3 linked regions of the Homo sapiens genome follow. The protein of the gene in region 1 purifies or fractionates together with the protein of each later gene. This does not show direct contact. Each region holds a gene or a part of one and is shown on either strand. Other genes may lie near its edges.

What was found. The genes of interacting proteins can lie anywhere in the genome.
Region 2: the proteins of KIFBP (region 1) and KIF16B purify together in Homo sapiens (affinity purification with mass spectrometry; 2 studies listed by BioGRID and IntAct, with this or other methods). This does not show direct contact.
Region 3: the proteins of KIFBP (region 1) and KIF3A purify together in Homo sapiens (affinity purification with mass spectrometry; 3 studies listed by BioGRID and IntAct, with this or other methods). This does not show direct contact.

Annotation. Positions count from the first base shown.
Region 1 is NC_000010.11:69,005,803-69,012,802, forward strand, and holds part of KIFBP (KIF-binding protein), read left to right. Parts: coding exon 1-113; intron 114-1,095; exon of another isoform or gene 1,096-1,949; intron 1,950-3,038; coding exon 3,039-3,123; intron 3,124-5,097; coding exon 5,098-5,213; intron 5,214-7,000. UniProt on the Homo sapiens protein: Activator of KIF1B plus-end-directed microtubule motor activity. Required for organization of axonal microtubules, and axonal outgrowth and maintenance during peripheral and central nervous system development.
Region 2 is NC_000020.11:16,271,581-16,276,471, forward strand, and holds the end of KIF16B (kinesin-like protein KIF16B), read right to left. Parts: intron 1,832-4,891; coding exon 1,673-1,831; 3' UTR 524-1,672; downstream 1-523. UniProt on the Homo sapiens protein: Plus end-directed microtubule-dependent motor protein involved in endosome transport and receptor recycling and degradation.
Region 3 is NC_000005.10:132,692,524-132,699,569, reverse strand, and holds the end of KIF3A (kinesin-like protein KIF3A), read left to right. Parts: intron 1-274; coding exon 275-399; intron 400-2,887; coding exon 2,888-2,936; 3' UTR 2,937-6,939; downstream 6,940-7,046. UniProt on the Homo sapiens protein: Microtubule-based anterograde translocator for membranous organelles. Plus end-directed microtubule sliding activity in vitro. Plays a role in primary cilia formation. Plays a role in centriole cohesion and subdistal appendage organization and function.

The DNA of each region.
Region 1 (7,000 bases):
AGGCTGCTCACTATTGCCATAGTACACTAAAACGCCAGCTTGAGCACAATGCCTACCATCCTATAGAGTGGGCTATCAATGCTGCTACCTTGTCACAGTTTTACATCAATAAGGTAAGCTTCTTGAAGTAGTTATCTAACAGAGTACCAATAGTGAGTATAAAAATAGAACCAGTAGTACCTTGAAAATACTATCTTTTAAAAACAGGTAGCTTGTATTTTATGATGTACAACTGAAGCCGAAAATGCAGCCCAGTTTGCCCGTGTACTAAAATTTTGTAGCTTTTTGTTGTATGAATTATTTTGAGTTTTAAAATACCGAGTTTTATCATTGTTTTACATGTTACCTAAGACCAATTCTTTTTTTAACATAGGCACGCTATCTCAACTCATTTTAGTGAGATATTACCTTAAATTGCAGATTTTACCTTGTAGATATAGCTTTATCTTTACGTAATGGTAATCTCATAACTCTGAGAATTTGACTGAGGAAGTTGACTGTTAAATGTGGGCTTTGATAAAAGCATGTGATGCATTTCAGTTATTTTTCAGAATTAACTCTGTAATAATTTTTTAATGTTGGAAATATGTCTGCTGAGTTCCAAAGTTCTAGGTCTTTATACCATACTTCTTTTGGATTGTTACACAGGGACAATGTTTTTGAGCTTCTTAGTTGTTTATCAGAATTTCTCATAAAAATTTAAAAAAGCATTGCTCACATCATGTTGGTGTACTCTTAATTGACCCATTTATTCCTTTAATCCTTGAGAGTTTTTAATGCTAAAATAATTTTACACCACCTTTTCTAACCAGATTTTCCTATTAATCCTTAATAAGACATCTCAGCAATATAAATTACTTTTATTTATATTTCGAATTCGCAAGCCTCTCTGAAATTTTGGTAGTTCTCTGCTTATCAGAGTTCCTTCTTTCATCTCTCTGGTAACCCGCTGCCTTATCCTTGGGCCTTTATCCTTTTTGAGCATTTCGTTAGCGTTGGTTCTGTAAATGCGCCCGATGATTAAAGTATTGTCCCACAGAATTTCATTCAGAAAAGCTATTAGCAGGAGAGAAAGGGCTGTGGTGACTGCAGCATCGCTTCTAGGACTTTGGTCTAAGATCAAGTGTGTAAGTAACGCTACTGCATATATCAGAGCATTCAGTTAACTAATTCTCATGAATCCATTTCATTGTCCTCATCCAAAGTGTTATCCAGTGCCTCCGCTTGTGACATCTTTTTTACAGCTGTTGGAGGCCCCTTATTCATTCTGTTTAGCAACTTTAAAATTACATATTCACTGTGACTTTAATTTATACTTAAAACTCCATGGAAATTGGCAGTACTAAGATATCTAGATATTAAAGTGTGATTAAAATTTAAAGTTGTTAAGCATTACTTATGTGGAGCATGCAGTAATTTTCATGAGACCTCCCACACCCTGCACTTTTATTTTTTTACCAAAATCTTTTTTAAGTTTTTGTTAAAACCAACTAAGTCGTATTGCAAAAAGAGGGATTTGAACCATGTTTTTAAAAATGCAATTGTCATTTATATCATTGTCATCTTCATCTGATTCCAGTGATGAGGTTTTGCTACTTGGTGAATCCCTACCTGGCAGCTGCTAAAGTCCCACATTTACCAGCCACCTAGAGGGCATAAGACACTCACTGTTCTAGCAGTGGTTGCTCACAGGGAGCCAATCTGGACAAAGCTGAAATGACGATAAATGTTAAGGGATTGGATTATAGAGAGATAATTAAAGTTTCATTATATAAACTCTAACTTTCTTTTGGCTTTTAAGATTTAACACATTTTTATCTATAGATGTTGCTGGGCTAATACTACACGTGTCCAGCTATTCTCAAGATGGCTTCTGAATTTGCCATAATGGAAAGATACATTTAATGCTGCAATTTTAAAGTTATAGCCAACCATTTAAAGCCTTTCAGGTATTACTAATATTAAGTAGACATTCTATTTAATGAGGGTGGCTTCCAACTAAAAGTTGGACTTTAACTTTGAACTTCTGCTGGGTGGTCCTTTGACTTACATGACAAATACAAAATGTTTCTATTAACAAGGAGATCTTCTCTAATTGTTTGAGAAGTTTGCCATGCCCGGAATTGAATTATGAAGTCTTCAAGAGTGTTGGTAAAGCAGTTCCATAAGGTTCATCTGTAGAAGTCTGTTGACTTTAAAACTTGGTGGGAAGCCTTATTGTATGTAAAGTTTAAAGATTTTAGAACACAGGAATATCTTCTTACCTGAGTTTATCCTATTTGCCTTTGTATAGTAGGATGTAAAGGGGCTCTCTAAACCTAATAAAAATTAAATCCTCAGGCTGGGCAAGGTGGCTTACATCTATAACCCCAGCACCCTGGGAGGCCAAGGTGGGAGCATTGCTTCAGGCCAGGAGTTGGAGACCTGTTTAGGCAACATAGAGAAACCCCAGAATTAGTCAGGCTTGGAGGCTAAAGGTGGGAGGATCCCTTAAGACCAGGAGGTTGAGGCTGCAGTGAACTATGATTGTGCCACTGCACTCCAGCCTTGGGCCAGAGTGAGACCCCTGTCTCGTAAAAAAAAAAAAAAATATATATATATATATATATATATATATTCAGTCTTCTGACACAATGTAAATAGTCTAAGAATTTATTGTGCATGGGATTTTGGCTACTTAGACTGAACCTAAAGGAGTTTTTGAGACAGTTTAAGTCTAGGATGACAGCCATTCCTGTATATCTATTGATTGTATAAGGAGAGCTAACTTTCAGTTGGCAGTTGTCTTTCAATCCGAGTGGATTATTATTAAGAGTTTGGGGGCATTAATATTTTAACCTTTGAGGTTACATTTTAACCAGATAATATGATAATATATCTTTTGTACCTTCTGAATGATCTGCAACTCTACAGGGCCTCCTTTGTAGTATTTTTATCTGATTTTATACCTTTTCCCATATTAAAAGAAATTATGCAAGTATCAGTTGCAAATAAAGCTGTGTGATAGTTGCATTCACTGTTGTTTATTTCCCCAATAGCTATGCTTTATGGAGGCCAGGCACTGTTTATCAGCTGCTAATGTCATTTTTGGTCAAACTGGAAAGATCTCAGCCACAGAAGACAGTAAGTTTACCTTTGCATGTTTTACATAGCTTTTAAAAAAAGTTTTATTTTGAAATTATTTTAAACTTTTGAAAAGTTGCAAGAACAGAAGAGCTATCATATGCCCTTCTAAATGCACCAATTTTTAGTATTTTCCTCGCTTGGAATCAAATTTTATTTTTCTCTCTGAACCATTGGAGAGAAGGTTACATACATTAGGCTCTTTTACCCTTTCATACTTTAGTATATATTTCCTAAGAAGAATATTTTCTTACATAATCATAGATCATTTATCAAATTCAAGAAATGTAACATTGGCCAGGCATGGTGGCCCACGCCTGTAATGCTAGATTTTGGGAGGCCAAGATGGGAGGGGCCAGGAGTTCAAGACAAGCCTGATCAACATAGTGAGACCCCATCTCTATGTTTTTAAAGAAATTAAAAAAAAAAAAGTAACATTGATACAATTCTTTTATCTACACTGCATATTTCTATTTCATCAGTTGTTGCCATAATATTCCTTCTAGCATTTGTTTGCCAGTACTGGATTATACAGTTCAAGATTGCATAATGCATTCAGTTGTCACATCTCTTCAGGCATTTTTCGTCTGGAATTGTTCCTCAGCCTTTCTTTCCCTTTCATCACTTAATATTAAGAATATAGGCCAGTTATTTCATAGAATTACTGCCAGCTGGGGTTTGTGTGATGTTTCCTTATGCCATGATTCAGATGATATATTTTTGGTTGGAATACTACATGCATAAGCGATGTTGCCAAATACCCATCTTTTTAAGTATAGTGTTTCCTTTAGTCTTAGAAAATCACAGTTAACATGTGTCTTTGAGTCATTTAACAGGTTTTTTAATAAGTTCATCATTTTCTTTAAAAATAGTTTATTTTTAAAAATAGTTTGATTCTATTGCTCACTGTTGAACAGTTTCCAACCTTCTTACGATGTTTTAGATTTTGAAACATCATGTCTTCCTTACAAATGGACATTCTAATTGTGGATCTGAAAAATGCAGAGACTCTTAAGAGCTAAAGGAATGTACATTATCAAAGTAAATAGTTGCTTTCTCCCCTAATATATTAACTACATTAATTATAGATTAGTTGAAGTCTAAGAGGCACTTGTCTCAAAAAATGAATAAAAACTAAATTGCTGAGATATTATTTAATAATTCACTTTATTTAAAGTAATATCGTGAGATATTATTTTGTTTTTACTCTTCATAATAGCTGAAAAAATGACAGTGACCAGTGTTTTCAAAATGTTCTTATTGAGCATTCTCATATATTGTTGGTTGGCATATTTGTTGAAAATAATTTGGCTGTATGTTGTGAATTATTTAAAATTGTGTAAACTCTTTTACTCAGTAAATTCCACTTCTAGGAATCTGCCCTAAGGAAGAAATCCAAAATCCAGACAGATTTTTGCACAATTATACTCATGTTTCAAGTTTAAAAAAAATGTGTGTATGTGTATAAACTTTACAAAGCTTTGTGTTGACAGCTGACTTTGTAGATTACAGCAAGAAAGCTGCTCTGCTATGTATGACACTCTGACCCAGAAGCAGGTCATCTGAATAGTTTAGCACCAGGTTCTCCACAACCATCTGTTGTGTGACATAGACGTTTTTGTGATAGTAAAGAATTGGAAACAACAAATTCCAGGTTAGAATTAGAAGAATGGTTAAATAATAGAATATCTATTTAATTGTATATAATGGTGTACTTAAAAATGAAGCTAAGAGTTGATAATGATATGAGTAAAGTGTTTGTGGTGCGAGAAAGAAATATGCAAAAATAATAGTGAGTGCTTCTGGGTAGTAGGATTTGGGGGGGGATCTTTCTTCCCTTTTCCCCAAGCCCCCTGCTTCAGTAAAGATCTGTTACTTTTATAGTCAGGAAAAAGTGATATTAAAAAAATTACAGTACCCAATGAAAATTACAGTTGTGACCATTAACTTAAACAAATCACATGTATATTTTAGCTCCTGAAGCTGAAGGAGAAGTGCCAGAGCTTTATCATCAAAGAAAGGGGGAAATAGCAAGGTGCTGGATCAAATACTGTTTGACTCTCATGCAGAATGCCCAACTCTCCATGCAGGTAATGCAGTCAGAAGCTGCCTTTTTCTTTCTTAAATGAGGAAATTGTAAGTAAAAACTCATAGTGGGGATTGTGCTCATTGGGGTCACATTGTGTTTAATATGAAAGGTGTGTAGAATGTTTTCGTAAATATTTCTTTCTTGGTTTTAAATCGTATTCTTCGAATTGCTTGAATCCGGGAGGCAGAGGCTGCGTGAGCCGAGATTGGACCACTGCACTCCAGCCTGGGCAACAGAGCGAGACTCCATCTCTAAATAAATAAATAAATAAAATAAATCTTACTCATCATTCAAGGCCTATCTTAAATACTACCTCTTCCTTGAAGACTTTTCTTTGGTTAGAATATAAGCTTCTTGAGAGCTGGGAACGATATCATATTCTTTTTTTTTTTTTTTTTAGACAGGCTCTCGCTCTGTTTCCCAGGCTGGAGTGTGGTGGCGTGATCATGGGTCACTGCAACCTTGGTCTCCCCGGCTCATGCAGTCCTCCCACCTCATCCTTGGAGTACAGGCGTGTGCCACCATATCCAGTTAATTTTTAAATTATTTTGTAGAGACTGGCTCTCACTGTGTTGCCAAGGCTGGTCTTGAACTCCTGGGCTCAAGTGATCTTCCTGCCTTGGCCTCCCAAAGTGCTGGGATTACAGGTGTGAGCCACTGTGCCTAATCTTTTTTTTTTTTTTTTTTTTTTTTTTTTTGAGACGGAGTTTTGCTCTGTCGCCCGTGCTGGAGTGCAGTGGTGTGATCGCAGCTGCAACCTCTGCTTCCTGGGTTCAAAGGATTCTCCTGCCTCAGCCTCCTGAGTAGCTGGGATTACAGGTGCCTGCCACCATGCCTGGCTAATTTTTGTCTTTTTAGTGTAGATGGGGTTTCACCATTTTGGCCAAGCTGGTCTCGAACTCCTGACCTCAAGTGATCCATCCATCTCGGCCTCCCAAAGTGCTGGGATTACAGGTGTGAGCAACCACACCTGGCCAAGCCCTTACTAATCTTTATATACTTCCCAGTGTTATCTTACACACAGCATGGACTTGATAAAATCTAAAAGGGTAGACTTTTAAGAAATAGCTCATGTAATAGTTCAAAAATAGAAGCAGAACTGATGGCAGTGAAGAGCATGGACTTGAAATACACTAGGTAGGTATGAACTCCAGCTCTGCCGCTTCGTAGCTATGTCTTTGTGGCAATTTACTTAATATATTTTTGCCTCTATTTCCTCACAAGTAAGTTGGAGATAATAGTACTTAATACTGTTGTTATGGGAGTTAAGTCAGTATATATTAAGGCCTCGGAAAAGTGCCTGAGACATACTAAGTCCTTAATAAATGTTAACTACCATCATCATTATTAATTTATGCCCAATCCTAGTTTCTAAGCACTAGGGAGGATAATAAAATTAATCATTTAGATGCAATATACTAAGTGTAGATACATAGGAAGATTTCCTGGGGGATTCATTGTGCTTTTATTTTTTTATATTGTGTATTAAAGTATGATAATTTTTTTTTTTTACATGGGACTCTGCTTGATAAAAGTATAATAATCTTTAGTGGTTGTATTAGTCTGTTCTCACACTGCTATAAAGAACTACTTGAGGCCAGGTACAGCGCCTCATGCCTATAATCCCAGCACTTTGGGAGGCCAAGGTGGGTGGATCACTTGAGCCCATGAGTTTGAGACCAGCCTAGACAACATGTTGAAACCCTGTCTCTACCAAAAATACAAAAAATTAGCCAGGCATGGTGGTGTGCACCTATAGTCCCAGCTACTGGGGAGGCTGAGGCAGGA
Region 2 (4,891 bases), on another chromosome or scaffold:
AAGAGAAACCACTTAGTTTACTCAGCAAATGAGGGACCATCTTTAGGGCTTAAGACTCCTCTTAAATAAATGACCTATGGTTAATTATTATCTACCCAGCTCTTATCCCTTAATCTCTAGTTTGAAATTCTCTGGTAGTAATTGCTCCTAAACCTATTCCTGTAATCACAACTGCAGACAAAAGCAGGTCCTTCTGCAGCAAAAATGTCCTCATTTTTTTTCACACTATACTATGATATTTAATTAGTGCAATACTAGTTTTCCTCCTTATAGGGATAATTGCACGTTTATGCATATTTTTCAGGTTGGAGAACTTTGTTGTGAAGGCATTCTCTAGAAGATGGAATGCAAACATGTTCTGTTAACCATTCATTTACGACTTCAATCATTACTATCACTGCATCTTCTGCAACACAAATGCTGAGTTATACATTATGCATATTTCCAAGAACATTAGATCAATGTTTAAACAGACTAGTATGAATGATCATGTTACAGACTTAAAATAAGCTGAGCTACAGGGTAGATGCCATAACTTCATTTAATATTGATAGCAGCTCAATTTAAATTTTGAAAAAGCAAATACATTTAATAAAATTGGTGTGAATTATTACATATTTTGATGGAACTACTGTACAGAATGTATACATATATAAATCTATAGATAGAATTATATACATTTGAGTATATACCACATACATATTTTTTCCACTCACATTTTTCTCTTTAGTAAAACAAAGCAGTTTTACTGTACACAGAAGTGCAATGCTACATTAAGTCCTGAGTAATTTAAGGTATCATTAATAAACTGCTATAAATTCTAGTTTTCCAGCCAAAGATCCAATAGATTCTGTAACAAAAAATGTGAATAATACTTAAAAATATGCATTTAGCTTTGCGTTCATTTTGTGCTTAGCAGAAAAAGCTCAAGAATGCACAGTAGCCATTTAGATTTGGGAGAATGTTCTTGAATATTCAAGGTTAAATAAATATCCTAATTGTAGGGATTTATAGAAGTTTTAAGTAATGTTGTCTACATCCAATTTGTCAAGCATGGAAGACTACAGTCATGATTGGATCAAAAAATCCCTTTTGCAGAATATGAAATTCTGTGTAAACATCAGTGTTTGGGTTTTATATAAAAGTTCTGATTCAAATGAGGGAAAAAAAGAAAAAAATACAATGAAATAATTTAAAATGCTTTTCTTGGAATATAGCCAGCCACATGGAAGAAATATAAAAAATACGAGTATATTTTGGTGAAAGAGGAAACCAGATGAAAGTCATTTAAGGGTGGTCTGGTAAGCCACCCACTTTGGGAGGTCCCAGGCTGGCTGGGCTCAGGGAACCCACGATGGCCCAACCACATCTATCTTGCCACAGGGGACGAACTTTGCTGCGCAGTGAGAAGGAAGCACTGTGGGAAAAGGCCACGTTCAACCGCAATGGAACGGTAACGGCTGCCTGTCAGGGCCACATCAGCAGGCAGAGCATCCCATCCCCAAACTCAGGCACTAGGTATGGAAACGTGAGGTGGCCCGGGCCCGCTGCTGCATGTCTGTCTTCAGCAGGAGGAGGCAGACCCGGATCCTCGCATGGGGGAGCTGCCCTGCATCGGAGCCCGCTTCGACGAGAAGGCACTGCTGTGGTGGTTCCTCCATCACCCCTGGCTCTACCCCGTCCCGTGGCTGCTGTAGTCAAAGACTCCTTTCTTGAAGAATGGTGAAAACTCACAAATGGTATGTTTCGAGAGAGTCAGTCCCACTTTGTTGATGTGGAGGGGAGATGTTGCGGACTGGAGCATCACGCTGAAAAAGTCCCTGAGGTATTTCTGTGGAAGAGACAAGAGTTAAGAACATGGTCAATTGGGAGGTCAAGGCGGGTGGGATCGCTTGAGCTCAGGAGTTTGAGACCAGTCCAGGCAACATGGAGAAACCTCATCTCTACAAAAAATAAAGAAATTAGCTGGACAGGGTGGTGCACTGAGGCAGGAGGATCACTTGAGCCCAGGAGGTAGAGGCTGCAGTGAGCTGTGATGGTGCCACTGCACTCCTGCCTGGGTGATAAAGCAAGACCCTGTCTCAATCAATCAATCAATCAATCAATCAATCAATCAATCAGAATACGGTCAAGGTACTGTTGGATGGTGTCAAGAAGAGAAAAAATTTCCAGAAACAACTTCCCACCCACCTGGAAAGTGCTATCATTGTCATTAAAACCAGCACGTGAGGAATGCCCTCCACTGTCCCACCTATCATCAGACCAACCAGAGAAGACGGAGTCACAAAATACATATGCACAGAAGAAATATCTTTGGCTCAGCACTGATTCTGGGCAGCACTGTCTCAGATCTACAGCAGACAATGCCTAGGAAAATGTCAAGGGTGCCAGGCACAGGGGATCTGCCTCTCAGCCACAGTGTCACTAGTTAATCTCTTATTTAAAAAAGTCATTTCCTCCCCGCTCCCAGTTACTCATTAAATAGAAAGATGATTAAAAAAAAAAAACAAAAAAAAAAGGCCGGCCATCTGTACAAGGTTAAATGTGCTGCTTACTGGTATTTTAAAATTGCACAGTCAGTATCTGTTTTGAATCCTTCTTATAAAATAAAGGGAAAGCAATACTGAGGACAAGAGGGTCAGTTCCAAGTACTGATATTTACAGATCTTTTTGCATGTCCTATAATCATCAACAAAAAGGAATCCTTACTACAATTACTTGCTCCAGACCCCTGCTGCATGTTTGTTGCAACATTATCTGCCGTTTTTGGCACTGAGAAAGCAAAGCATATGTGAGACTAGGCTCTGGGAACTGGGGATAAAATCAGATGTGGGAGCTGGAGGGATGTGTTCAAGGAAAAGAGGGCACACAAGAATAGTTAATATATTTTAGGCCAGGCAAATCTCATCTGTAACAGAAAATGGGCTGGAGGGAAGGGGTTAGACCCAAACCTTTATTATTGTCTCAGTGTGCTTAAAAAACCCAAACAACCCTGGCACAGTCTTAGGAATTACACATAATAATTCTGGACTCTGAGTAACAACAAAAAATTTGTGAAAGCAACATGGCCTAAGCCTGGAGCAGTAGTTCCCAACAAGAGGCAGTTCTGCCCCATAGAGTGTTCAGCAGTGTTTGGTGGCAGTTTTGAGTGTCACATAGGGGTGCACAGGCAGTGCACCTGGTGGATGCTGGCCAGGGATGCCAAAGCACAGGACAAAGAATTATCTGGCCCAAATGTCGACGATGCCACAGTTGAGAAGAGAAAGTAGAATTTAGCTACCTCTATGAATTGCCAACCTGAAATTTCCTTCTGAAAGAAGACATTCTACTCAACGAGAATTTGTTAATTCTCCTTCAAAATATTAATGAGGACTACTAACAACAACACTTGTAAAATAACTTAGTTTCTAAAAATCTTCTAACATCCAATGTTTTACACTTAATGGAAGTAAAACTGGTGCATGATAAATTGTACTTTTTTTTTTTTTTTTGAGACGGAGTCTTGCTCTGTCTCCCAGGCTGCAGTGCAGTGGCGCGATCTCAGCTCACCACAACCTCTGTCTCCTGGGTTCAAGCAATTCTCCTGCCTCAGCCTCCTGAGTAGCTGGGACTACAGGCATGTGCCACCATGCCCAGCTAATTTTTTTGTATTTTTAGTAGAGACGGGGTTTCACCATGTTGGCCAGGCTGGTCTCAAATGCCTGACCTCAAATGATCCACCCCCCTTGGCCTCCCAAAGTATTGGGATTACAGGTGTGAGCCACTGCGCCCGGCCAGATAAACTGTACATTCTTTAAATGTATAACTTCATGAGTGCTGACCCATGTGAAACCACCATTAAATCAAGATAAATATTTGCATCCCCTTCAAAAGTTTCCTAAGGCACCTAACTTTATGTTATCCTTACACTTGGCCTGGAATCACATCTTCTTCTGGTATTACCCATTTCCTGGTAAGGAAGCTATTGCCAGGAGAGGTGAGCAAGGCTAGTAATCTAGAGAGAAGACTTGAAAGCAAGTATTCTCAACTCAAGATGTTTTTTCTTGTTCCATATCCCTAACTTACTGGTCTCATGGTACCCTCTCAAGAAACGATCCTGAAATTGAAATTAGGTATTGGTAAGAAGTTATGAAAATCAACTGCTGAAAAGTGAAGATCTTAATCTTAGTAATTATTTTTATCAGAGGGGCAAAGAGAGACCTGACTTCCACTTTTCTGCGGGAAGGGACCCTGAGAATATCAACTTTAAAGGGACTTGAATTGCATCAAACAGGGTCACCAGTATATATCGTAGACTACACTCAACCAGCCAATGCTCGCGGTGCAATGCATGTGCACAACTGATTGTTCTGGGAAGATCAAGGGTGAGATGATTTGGAAAACGGGAGATGCAGAGCTTGCTGACTTGTGCATGGAGCCACTGCTCTTTCACAGTTTAATGCATGATAGAGCAAGGCTCGCTGCACAGGCCTCATCTCAGGTAGCTCCTGTGGGCTCCGGCTTCAGGTCTCCCACAGGCTGCATTAACAGGCAGGCTGATGTTTACAGCAAAGCTGACTTCAAGATGAACTCTGACAGACTGGAAGGCAATTTAAATCTGGGAGCAGATGTTATATCAGCATTTGTCATAATTAGTACACAAAGTAGGGTCCCTATAAAGGGCCAATAAAGCCTAAAGGGTATAATAAGAAGAGAAGTAAAAGTTAAAAATATAAATGAAAGGAAAAGAGGAAGTATTTGAGACACCTCCCTTCAAGAGCACCACCATAAGAAGAGAACAATACAACTGTCAGGTAATGTCTTTTTCTTTAAATAAACTCATTAGTGTTGTTTGACAAAAACTCCAGATAGAATGATCTGATTTGACTAATTCTAAACATTACAGAAGAGT
Region 3 (7,046 bases), on another chromosome or scaffold:
AAAAAAAAAGAAGAAGAAGAGGGGGCAGCTTTAAGAAAAACAGCAACAGTTTTTATGTCCAAGGAAATTTATAGTGTGTCAGGGCTTCTTACTCACCAACCTTTATTAAGTACATTTTAGATACTGGGATTAGAAGATGATGTCATTAGACATTTCTTTGGTTTTAGCTTCTGTGGGTTTGATCAAGGAGTTTATTCAGTATTTTAAATCTTCCCCCAAATCTGGCTTTAACTCTTTGCCTTAAGAGTGCTTTGTGTTTGTTTCTTTTACTTAGCCCTTTGAGGTGGACCTTTCTCACGTGTATCTTGCCTATACTGAGGAGAGTCTGCGTCAGTCTTTGATGAAACTAGAAAGACCACGAACTTCAAAGGGGAAAGCAAGGCCAAAGACAGGGAGAAGGTAAGGACTGTCCTTGAATCTGGTAAAACGAAGGCATTGAGGTATTCTAATTAGATACATGTACAGGAAGTTAAAATTTATTTAGTTAAAACATGATACATATTTTGGCTGATTTATTAAAAATCAAATTCCTGGCTGGGCACAGTGGCTCACGCCTGTAATCCCAGCATTTTGGGAGGCCGAGGCAGGTGGATCATTTGAGGTCAGGAGTTTGAGACCAGCCTGGCTAACATAGTGAAACGCTGTCTCTACTAAAAATACAAAAGTTAACCAGGCATGGTGGCGCATGCCTGTAATCCCAGCTACTGGGGAGGCTGAGGCATGAGAATCGCTTGAACCCAGGAGCCGGAGGTTGCAGTTAGCCGAGATCATGAGATCATGCCACTGAACTTCAGCCTGGGTGACAGAGCAAGACTTGGTCTCAAAAAAAAAAAAAAAAAATCAAATTCCTTATGTATTAGAATTTGAGTAAATAAAATCTGGCCAAAGAATTAAGGTCTTCCAACTTCTTAGGCTTCTGAGTAATAGAATTTATTTTTAATTCACTCTGTTATTTCCAAATGTATAATGGGTTTAATTCCTTAATTCTTAGACTAATTCTTCTTATGAAATGCTAATTAATTTGCCTGTTTGGTCTCCCAAGGTATTGTATTCAGCTGGTTAGTTTTTCTGTCAGGTGCCCCAAGAACCTTGATTTCCTCAGTCACCAGCTAAGGAGAACTTCCTTGGACATTTCCCCCTCTCCTTTGGGCACTGGTTTTGACTGTTGGGTAGTCTGCGTGTATCATCACATAAGCTCAGGGAAATCGGGATATGGGAGTCCTGGGCTGGAGCTTATTTTTTTTTCCTTTCCCTTTCCTACATCAAGGACTGTTCAGTTTATTTAAGCTGATTTTAAGACTCTGGGGCTCCTAAAATGTAGGAAATAATAAGCTGCTTTTTTCCCTACTTTGAGTGCATGGACTTTCAAGTTACATGTGGGATGAAGTTGTACGGTTTTGATATCTTTGTGTTACATAATCTCATAGACATGACTTAACACTTATAAATTTGGGATGGTTGAACTCAGGGTTGGGCAAACAGTTGAATATTAAAAATGTACAAATTTTTACATTCTTTAGCATTTAGGTGAGGGGTTAAAAACTTTCCTATACCAACACATGCCAAGCATATTGTAGTGAAGCAAATCAGTTCTAAGAAACATGAGTCCCTTTAGATGTATCTTTTTTTCCATTTTTAATAAAATGACAGTGCAAGTGTGATGATAAATGGTAAGACATTTGTCCCCAGCGTAGGAGAAAAATTGGCAGTGGTGAGCAGTCCTGTCTAAAGTGAGTGGCTGCTATTCTCTTCCTAGTTATCTATGGAAATAGAGGGCTCATTGTTTCTGGATCTTCTGTTTTCTTTTCTTTTCTTTTTTTTGAGATGGAGTCTCACTCTGTTGCCCAGGCTGGAGTGCCCTGAGTAGCTGGGATTACTGGCACCTGCCACCATGCCCAGTTAATTTTAGTATTTTTACTAGAGATGGGGTTTTGCCCTGTTGGCCAGGCTGGTCTCGAACCCCTGACTTCAGGTGATCTGCCCACCTCAGCCTCCCAGAGTGTTATGATTACAGGCATGAGCCACCGTGCCTGGCCTGGATCTTCTCTTTTCTAAGGAAAAGCCAGAAATTCGAATTATTTACTTGAGATCTGTCAATTTTACTTTTTTTTTTTTTAACTATATGGACCCTAAAGCAAATGAATAAATAATATGATATTTGAATACGTTTTCCAGAACATCCATTTTAAGATACGTCATTTTTTTAGTTTAACATTAAAAAAATCGTGTGGCCCAACATTATATGAGCCAAACTCACCATCTCTGTATACTGGAATTGGCCTGCTATAACCATGGAAACCCTAAGAAAATGGTAGCCATAAACATGGACAAATACATGCATTAAATGGTTTATTGATGCTATGTTACATTATATGATATGTTCAATGTGATGTTCCTTGTTAGAAACACATAGTTAGATGGGCTAGGCAAAATTGCAATAAATATAATACATTAATGTAGCATTTCCATAAGTCCCTACATATGCATCAGGTATTGCCTGAGATGATTTGTTTCTGATTTCCTCTGAATCCACTTGCACCTTTTGAGTACCTCAGAAGAGATAATCAGGAAGTTCAAATCTGGCAAGCATGCAGCTCACTTGGCCTGGCCACATGACCTAGTCTAGTCTTGGAAATTATCACCTGTCCTATCCTTCACTATCTGGCATAATGGGGTGGGCTGCCATCCTCTTGCATTTACTTTAAGTTAGCTTCCCGTAGCCTGAAAAGGCGAGCATTAATTGAACACTTACCATGGTCAAACGTGTCAAATTTTGGCTTGTTTCCAGACTATACAGGCCACCCCATAGTTTCTATATAATGTTAAATGTTTGCATTTCAGTCTTTTAGGAAAGCATTCATGATTGCTTTTTTTCTTCTCCAAACAGAAAGCGTTCTGCAAAGCCTGAAACTGTAATTGACTCTTTACTGCAGTAAATGTTACAGACTTAAAGTCACAATAAAAATTAGTGATATTCTCATGCCTGGACAAAATCTTTAATTAAAACAGTGAAGACTTCTCTATAATTTCAATTAATGGAAGTTGTAGATCAATGAATAAGACTGGAAATAATAATTTGCTTAAGAACTTTTAGTCTACATATATTAATATAACATTAAAATTGTACAACTGGTGATTGTTCAAATTGTTGTACTACTACTCTTCAATTGTACTGTGCAGGGAAGTTGGGGGAACAGTTCATACTATAGAGAGTTACAGTTTAGATGTATGTGTAAATCGATTAGCTATTTATCCAACTACTGTATATTTAGGTAACTAGAATTTCAAAATAGAAAAAAAAAAACTGTGTCCTGTTTTGCACATAGAAAGAAGCAGATCAGATTGTCCTATGTTGCGCTGTTATATATGAATGTTTGGACTGTACATCTAAAGAATGATTCCGTCCTAACACCCACCCAGCCTGTTTGAACACATTCTAATTGTCTAACATTTGTTGCATTTTAAGTATGAGATGACTGATCTTATGAATGTTTTGTAGAAAATGTTATAATTTAACAGTCTTTGCGAGTATACATGTTTTTTAACAAGTTGAAAATGTTTCATCTGAACCTTTCCTAACTTTTTTTTGCCAGTTTGAGTTCAAATCAAATACACCTTAAGTTCTGGTTTCATGTTCTCTTGAAACATTGAATTGTACGTAAATATAAAGGATCTACTGTTGCGGAAAATTAAGAAGCTAAATACTGCTCAGTTATCTTTGCCTGCGTGTATATTTTTAAAAATTCACTCTGAAGTGTTATGGATGCTTTTCTTTGAGTTCTAAATTTTGGTGGGAATTACTTTATGTCTCCCAGTTAAGAAGAGTCTCCATTTTCCAGAAAATACAGCTAAGCAAGAAAAATATCTTTTAAATACTTTGCCTTTAAAACACTTTTTTATTTTGTTTTTCTATTTTAAAAATAAAATATTATTTTCTGAATTTCTTCTATTGGGTAATCCAGTTAGACCATATTCCTCTACAAATAAAAACTATGTTGATTTCATAGTAAAGTAAGTTGTAATAGAGATAATTATTTTTTTCTGTTGTTAGCTGCTTATGAAACTTTTATTGTATTTTTTTAAAGTTATGCTACTCCTGGCCGGGCATGGTGGCTCACGCCTGTAATCCCAGCACTTTGGGAGGCCGAGGCACGTGGATCACTTGATGTCAGGAGTTCGAGACCAGCCTGGCTAACATGGTGAAACCCTGTCTCCAGTACAAATACAATAATTAGCTGGGTGTGGTGGCGCACACCTGTAATCCCAGCTACTTGGGAGGCTGAGGCAGGAGAATCACTTGAACCTGGGAGGCGGAGGTTGCAGTGAGCTGAGATGGCATCACTGCACTCCAGCCTGGGTGACAGGGTGACACTCCACCTCAAAAAATAAAAATAAAATAAAAATAAAGTTATGCTACTCCTAAACCACTTAATATATGTTTTGTGGTTTTCAAAATTATGTAATCAGCCCTGAAACACATTGGTTGAAAATATTTTGAGACTTTATAAGTTAGTATTTATTAAATTAATATTATTTTAATAAGTTTTGTTAAATCCTAGTTTAAATGACAAAGCTGTGTATAGAGTAGGGGTGAGTGAAGGTGGAGTACTCTTGAGGTGGCGATAAAAATGTACCCATAAATTTAAAGTCCATTCTGTAATTGGAATACTGAATGTCCTGTGTGTGGTGAACATTTTCTAGGTGATTAGAATTGCATTTCACTGGCTGCATTTGTTTGTGGTATGTAAGATAGCTAGAAATTTATTACTTAACTCTGTGGGGCATTGTTTAGATACTGTGAAGAGTTGAGGTAAATATGTGTCTTGTAAAAGCTTTGTGTGATCAGAATATTTTGGTAATTATAAAATGTTTTTGATGATACACATTTAACTCTGTTAGTAATTACTCTAAAGAAATCTTAATTTTACCAGTTTAAAAAAAACGCTTCTTTTTAAAAGTTCATGTTTCTAACCTTTAACAATTCAGTTAATAGGAAAGGAGTAACTTTTAAATCAAGCTTTAAAACATGGAAATTTAAGCCAGTATGTTAGATATTTTTTCTATCCCACCCTACCATGATAATAAAAATAAATCTATAAAAAGTCAAAATAAAAAGCCGATCTATAAAAAGTCAATTGAGAAGTTCTAAAAGCAGGCTACTATAGCAGGGGTGTTTGTTTTTTGTTTGGAGACGGAGTCTGGCTCTATTACCTAGGCTGGAGTGCAGTGGGACAATCTCGGCTCACTGTAACCTCTGTCTCTTCAGCCTCCTGAGTTGCTGGAACTACAGCTGTATGCCATCATGCTCGGCTAATTTTTGTATTTTTTTGTAGAGATGGGGTTTTGCCATGTTGCCCGGGCCTGTCTTGAACTCCTAGAGCTTAAGTGATCCACCCGCCTCAGGCTCCCGAAGTGCTGGGATTACAGGCATGATTATAGGCCTGAGCCACCACACCCCGCCTACTATAGCAGTTTTTTAAAAAAAGCATTATGTTAAAACTGATTATACCAGATGGACATTAAATATCCATCTCAGAAATACCAAAATTTGATACATAAGCCTGGCCTGAATATCTTTTTTTTTTTTTTGAGACGGAGTCTTACTCTGTCGCCCAGGCTGGAGTGCAGTGGCGCGATCTCGGCTCACTGCAACCTCTGCCTCCTGGGTTCAAGGGATTCTCCTGCCTCAGCCTCTTGAGTAGCTGGGATTACAGGTTTGCGCCACCACACCCAGCTAATTTTTGTATTTTTTTTTTAGTAGAGACCGGGTTTCACCATGTTGGCCAGGCTGGTCTCACCTGACTTTGTGATCCGCCCGCCTCAGCCTCCCAAAGTGCTGGGATTACAGGTGTGAGCCACCACGCCTGGCCTCAAGCCTGGTCTGAATATCTATATGCAAATATGGGACACTGACTTCAGAGCTATTCATTTAGCTCCAGTCATAGCAATTCTGTAGTTTCCTCACATTTACTGTGTCTTTGTCCACAAATGAAATATGTTGTAAGGTCAGTGTTAATTTCGTGAGACGATATAGATGAACACACTTGCTCATTTTTTGAAATAAATATGCAGATTTAAAATGAGTGGCACATATATATAAATAGGTTATTGAATGGGTATTCTCTTTTCCCTTTAATTTAAAAAGTGATATTTATTTATTAAAAGGAGCATTGGTAGAATTATTGGTTTATAGTATCTTCTTTAATAATCCTTACAATTACATATACTAATAGGATGTTAAAATTATCATCGTGTTTCCTATTTGTGTTTAGATTCTTATAAAGCATGAGATGAGTAATCAAGGGAAGGGTCGCATCTCCATGTTTGCCCCATGAATAGAATCCATTTGACAAGCCATTTCATTTCCTTTCTGGAGAAAGGGAGTTGTTTTTTTTTTCTTTTTACAGCAAAAATTTAAGGTTTTATTGGGGGAGGGGGTGGTGCTACTTCCTCTGTAACATGTTTTTAAAACTATGATTATGGTTTTTGGTTGTTTTTTGTTTTGTTTGTTTCCTTTTAGTCTGTTTTTAATATCCTTCCCCTTAACTCTTAAGGAAAGTCTTCTTTCCTACAGGGCTGTGAATTAAGGAATGGGTAGCGTTTACATTTAAGTACACCAATGTCTGCCCAATTTCCTAATGTATACATTTGTTTTATTTTAAATTATTTTTTGTTCTTAAAAATACTAGAAGAAAACATAGATGTTTCTAGTGCCTTTGAACTTATACTGTAGTCTGACTAATTTAATGAATAACTTCAGTAGCATTACTATAATACTGTATGCTGGCCAAAATTACAAATTACAGTTTGTTGCATCAGTTTCAAAAGCCATGCTTTCATTGTATTTTATGTATAAATTGTATTTGTTCAAGTTGTATATATTGGTATTGTATGTATACATGCAGCATGGTTAAATAAGAATAAAAATCTTTTACCTAATGCCTGTAGTAGTGGTCTGCTGCTTTTCTCAACTATCTTTGTGGTTACTTCCACCCTGATATTAATGAGCAGGTTCTTTGTGCTTGGCATCTCAATTTGTGGTTAAG